Homo sapiens: one gene and its partner. The protein of the gene in region 1 interacts with the protein of each later gene in a biochemical or structural test. Each region holds a gene or a part of one and is shown in the gene's direction. Other genes may lie near its edges.

Region 1 (2,632 bases):
AGGAACTAGATAAGCAGGGTTCCTGGGGCCACAGACAGGCCTGCGCATTCCCAATACTCAGGCTCTGCTCTTGCGTGAACTGGGCTCAACATTCCTGTTATTTGAGGTTTCTTGCGGGCAGGGTACAAAACTTTGGAGCCTGAGAGATGGTTCTGCCTATATAGTTTACCTGATTGATTTTGGAGGCAATGTGCAGTGACCCTTGACCTCTTCCGCTGGTTAGAGGTGAGAAGAGGGAGAAAAGGCCGAAGAGGAAGTTATTGTGACCTTGGGGACATGATGTCGGTGATGAGGTCCAAAGAGGGGCGGCCCTGCCTCAGCCTGTGCTAGTGGCCTGTGCCCAGGGATGCTTTCCTGGACTGGAGGCTCAAGGAATGGAGATGGGCTCCTCTACCCCTGCCCAGCCAGCCTTCTCTCATTCATTCATCCACTTAGCAACAATTTATTGAGCACCTATTAGGTACCAGGCACTATGCTAGGTACTGGGGTTCAGCAGCAAATGGGACACAGGCTCCTCTCCCATGAAGCTTAGGAGGAAACATTAAACAAATGTTATTTAATTATTAATTCCTAACAAGGCAAGAGTTTTAAAAATAAAGTAAGTGATGCTACAGAAGGGTAGAATAGAAGGAGGGAAGCTGACGTGGTCTGGGCTACAGAGGTAGAGTGTTGCCAGGAATGGCCTTTTGGAGGAAGACCTTTTAAGCTGTTATCCAAAGGATCAGTAAGAGTCTGGCAAAGATAGCAGAGCAGAGTTCCAAGCAGAGGGAGCACAGATGTGAAGGCTGGTGGCCAGAGAGCATGGCGCATCGGGACGCTGAGGGATGGACAGAGCATGGACAGGGAGCAAGGCCAGGCAGGGACAGGGCCAGGTGCGCCCATGGAAGGACCTAGGTCTGGATCCTAAATGCACGGAGAAGTCACTGGAGGGCTTTGGGGCCAGGCAGTGGTATCACCGGTCAGCAGTCATAGAGGGGTGGCCTAGGGGGTGCTGCCGTTGAGTGTCTGTGTGGGTGGGGGGTGGTGGGATTGAGCAGTGAGGGGCCCAGCTGAGAGCTCCTGTGCCTTCTTCTCTATCCCCGTGCCCACAGATCGTCCTGGGGTGCAGGACGCCGCGCTGATTGAGGCCATCCAGGACCGCCTGTCCAACACACTGCAGACGTACATCCGCTGCCGCCACCCGCCCCCGGGCAGCCACCTGCTCTATGCCAAGATGATCCAGAAGCTAGCCGACCTGCGCAGCCTCAATGAGGAGCACTCCAAGCAGTACCGCTGCCTCTCCTTCCAGCCTGAGTGCAGCATGAAGCTAACGCCCCTTGTGCTCGAAGTGTTTGGCAATGAGATCTCCTGACTAGGACAGCCTGTGGCGGTGCCTGGGTGGGGCTGCTCCTCCAGGGCCACGTGCCAGGCCCGGGGCTGGCGGCTACTCAGCAGCCCTCCTCACCCCGTCTGGGGTTCAGCCCCTCCTCTGCCACCTCCCCTATCCACCCAGCCCATTCTCTCTCCTGTCCAACCTAACCCCTTTCCTGCGGGCTTTTCCCCGGTCCCTTGAGACCTCAGCCATGAGGAGTTGCTGTTTGTTTGACAAAGAAACCCAAGTGGGGGCAGAGGGCAGAGGCTGGAGGCAGGGCCTTGCCCAGAGATGCCTCCACCGCTGCCTAAGTGGCTGCTGACTGATGTTGAGGGAACAGACAGGAGAAATGCATCCATTCCTCAGGGACAGAGACACCTGCACCTCCCCCCACTGCAGGCCCCGCTTGTCCAGCGCCTAGTGGGGTCTCCCTCTCCTGCCTACTCACGATAAATAATCGGCCCACAGCTCCCACCCCACCCCCTTCAGTGCCCACCAACATCCCATTGCCCTGGTTATATTCTCACGGGCAGTAGCTGTGGTGAGGTGGGTTTTCTTCCCATCACTGGAGCACCAGGCACGAACCCACCTGCTGAGAGACCCAAGGAGGAAAAACAGACAAAAACAGCCTCACAGAAGAATATGACAGCTGTCCCTGTCACCAAGCTCACAGTTCCTCGCCCTGGGTCTAAGGGGTTGGTTGAGGTGGAAGCCCTCCTTCCACGGATCCATGTAGCAGGACTGAATTGTCCCCAGTTTGCAGAAAAGCACCTGCCGACCTCGTCCTCCCCCTGCCAGTGCCTTACCTCCTGCCCAGGAGAGCCAGCCCTCCCTGTCCTCCTCGGATCACCGAGAGTAGCCGAGAGCCTGCTCCCCCACCCCCTCCCCAGGGGAGAGGGTCTGGAGAAGCAGTGAGCCGCATCTTCTCCATCTGGCAGGGTGGGATGGAGGAGAAGAATTTTCAGACCCCAGCGGCTGAGTCATGATCTCCCTGCCGCCTCAATGTGGTTGCAAGGCCGCTGTTCACCCACAGGGCTAAGAGCTAGCGCTGCCGCACCCCAGAGTGTGGGAAGGGAGAGCGGGGCAGTCTCGGGTGGCTAGTCAGAGAGAGTGTTTGGGGGTTCCGTGATGTAGGGTAAGGTGCCTTCTTATTCTCACTCCACCACCCAAAAGTCAAAAGGTGCCTGTGAGGCAGGGGCGGAGTGATACAACTTCAAGTGCATGCTCTCTGCAGCCAGCCCAGCCCAGCTGGTGGGAAGCGTCTGTCCGTTTACTCCAAGG
Region 2 (3,233 bases), on another chromosome or scaffold:
TTTTGACCCCCCTGTGAAATGACGTGGGTGTCCCTTGCATGGGCCGAGTCAGGCTGTGCAGGGCAGGCAGGTGACAGATCCCACCATCCCCCTCCCAGGACAGTCACCATCACCTGCCAACCCGGAGCCTCCTCACTTGCTGTGGTGTCTGTAGCGGGGCAGAGCGGGTCCTCAGCAGAGCGAGGGCCTTTCTTCCCTCCCCACCTTCACACACTTCTTCCGCTTTCCACCTTTCTCCAGTCTCCTTTGTCCTCTTTCTAGTTTCTGAATGCGGCAGTTTTCATATCTTTTTGTGAACACAGTCATGGTACCTGGTCCTAGGGCTCCATCAGGTTGCCAGGTGCGAGCAGTTTTCAGTAACTTGGGCTTGCGCGTTGGGGAAGTCCCACTGGTGCACTGCGGATAGCTCAGGCCTTCCCAGAGGCACTTCACGGCAGCTGTCGGCGCTTTGGGAGGGACCGGCCTCCCTCAGCCTTTCACTGTCTGGCTTCATAGTTTGAGTACAGGAGTTGGACAGGCTGTGGCAAGGGCTGATGTGACTCCCAGGTCAGAGGAAGTCGGAAGGAAGGGGGCTGGTGTCTACTGTCCGTGAGCTTACAGGCCAGGGGTTCTTGGGGCATGGGTCAGGTTATCTTTGAGCCTTCAGGGCTGTTGCCAGGAGTGAAGGTCCTTGGGAGCAACACATAGGCAGTCCATGCCCCCGTCCTGTCCATGATCCCATGTTGTCCATGATCCCATCCCGTCCATGATCCCATCTTGTCCGTGCTCCCGCCCTGTCCGGGTCTCCCACCTGTCCGTGCTCGCATCCTGTCTGGGTCTCCTATCCTGCCTGGGTCTCCTGGCACAGACCCAGACTTAGCGGTGGAGGGAAGCAGCCAGGATGCCTGGTGGTACTGGGTCCCATGCTGACACCGGCCTGTCCCCTTTCCTTGCTTGCAGGACTACGACCTCTGCATCAACTGCTATAACACGAAGAGCCATGCCCATAAGATGGTGAAGTGGGGGCTGGGCCTGGATGACGAGGGCAGCAGCCAGGGCGAGCCACAGTCAAAGAGCCCCCAGGAGTCACGCCGGCTGAGCATCCAGCGCTGCATCCAGTCGCTGGTGCACGCGTGCCAGTGCCGCAACGCCAACTGCTCGCTGCCATCCTGCCAGAAGATGAAGCGGGTGGTGCAGCACACCAAGGGCTGCAAACGCAAGACCAACGGGGGCTGCCCGGTGTGCAAGCAGCTCATCGCCCTCTGCTGCTACCACGCCAAGCACTGCCAAGAAAACAAATGCCCCGTGCCCTTCTGCCTCAACATCAAACACAAGCTCCGCCAGCAGCAGATCCAGCACCGCCTGCAGCAGGCCCAGCTCATGCGCCGGCGGATGGCCACCATGAACACCCGCAACGTGCCTCAGCAGAGTCTGCCTTCTCCTACCTCAGCACCGCCCGGGACCCCCACACAGCAGCCCAGCACACCCCAGACGCCGCAGCCCCCTGCCCAGCCCCAACCCTCACCCGTGAGCATGTCACCAGCTGGCTTCCCCAGCGTGGCCCGGACTCAGCCCCCCACCACGGTGTCCACAGGGAAGCCTACCAGCCAGGTGCCGGCCCCCCCACCCCCGGCCCAGCCCCCTCCTGCAGCGGTGGAAGCGGCTCGGCAGATCGAGCGTGAGGCCCAGCAGCAGCAGCACCTGTACCGGGTGAACATCAACAACAGCATGCCCCCAGGACGCACGGGCATGGGGACCCCGGGGAGCCAGATGGCCCCCGTGAGCCTGAATGTGCCCCGACCCAACCAGGTGAGCGGGCCCGTCATGCCCAGCATGCCTCCCGGGCAGTGGCAGCAGGCGCCCCTTCCCCAGCAGCAGCCCATGCCAGGCTTGCCCAGGCCTGTGATATCCATGCAGGCCCAGGCGGCCGTGGCTGGGCCCCGGATGCCCAGCGTGCAGCCACCCAGGAGCATCTCACCCAGCGCTCTGCAAGACCTGCTGCGGACCCTGAAGTCGCCCAGCTCCCCTCAGCAGCAACAGCAGGTGCTGAACATTCTCAAATCAAACCCGCAGCTAATGGCAGCTTTCATCAAACAGCGCACAGCCAAGTACGTGGCCAATCAGCCCGGCATGCAGCCCCAGCCTGGCCTCCAGTCCCAGCCCGGCATGCAACCCCAGCCTGGCATGCACCAGCAGCCCAGCCTGCAGAACCTGAATGCCATGCAGGCTGGCGTGCCGCGGCCCGGTGTGCCTCCACAGCAGCAGGCGATGGGAGGCCTGAACCCCCAGGGCCAGGCCTTGAACATCATGAACCCAGGACACAACCCCAACATGGCGAGTATGAATCCACAGTACCGAGAAATGTTACGGAGGCAGCTGCTGCAGCAGCAGCAGCAACAGCAGCAGCAACAACAGCAGCAACAGCAGCAGCAGCAAGGGAGTGCCGGCATGGCTGGGGGCATGGCGGGGCACGGCCAGTTCCAGCAGCCTCAAGGACCCGGAGGCTACCCACCGGCCATGCAGCAGCAGCAGCGCATGCAGCAGCATCTCCCCCTCCAGGGCAGCTCCATGGGCCAGATGGCGGCTCAGATGGGACAGCTTGGCCAGATGGGGCAGCCGGGGCTGGGGGCAGACAGCACCCCCAACATCCAGCAAGCCCTGCAGCAGCGGATTCTGCAGCAACAGCAGATGAAGCAGCAGATTGGGTCCCCAGGCCAGCCGAACCCCATGAGCCCCCAGCAACACATGCTCTCAGGACAGCCACAGGCCTCGCATCTCCCTGGCCAGCAGATCGCCACGTCCCTTAGTAACCAGGTGCGGTCTCCAGCCCCTGTCCAGTCTCCACGGCCCCAGTCCCAGCCTCCACATTCCAGCCCGTCACCACGGATACAGCCCCAGCCTTCGCCACACCACGTCTCACCCCAGACTGGTTCCCCCCACCCCGGACTCGCAGTCACCATGGCCAGCTCCATAGATCAGGGACACTTGGGGAACCCCGAACAGAGTGCAATGCTCCCCCAGCTGAACACCCCCAGCAGGAGTGCGCTGTCCAGCGAACTGTCCCTGGTCGGGGACACCACGGGGGACACGCTAGAGAAGTTTGTGGAGGGCTTGTAGCATTGTGAGAGCATCACCTTTTCCCTTTCATGTTCTTGGACCTTTTGTACTGAAAATCCAGGCATCTAGGTTCTTTTTATTCCTAGATGGAACTGCGACTTCCGAGCCATGGAAGGGTGGATTGATGTTTAAAGAAA

What was found. The genes of interacting proteins can lie anywhere in the genome.
Region 2: the proteins of VDR (region 1) and CREBBP form a complex in vitro, tested with the Homo sapiens proteins (2 studies listed by BioGRID).

The regions. Positions count from the first base shown.
Region 1 is NC_000012.12:47,843,465-47,846,096, reverse strand, and holds part of VDR (vitamin D3 receptor), read left to right. Parts: intron 1-1,091; coding exon 1,092-1,351; coding exon of another isoform or gene 1,352-1,552; 3' UTR 1,553-2,632.
Region 2 is NC_000016.10:3,727,581-3,730,813, reverse strand, and holds part of CREBBP (CREB-binding protein), read left to right. Parts: intron 1-939; coding exon 940-3,096; 3' UTR 3,097-3,233. UniProt on the Homo sapiens protein: Acetylates histones, giving a specific tag for transcriptional activation. Mediates acetylation of histone H3 at 'Lys-18' and 'Lys-27' (H3K18ac and H3K27ac, respectively).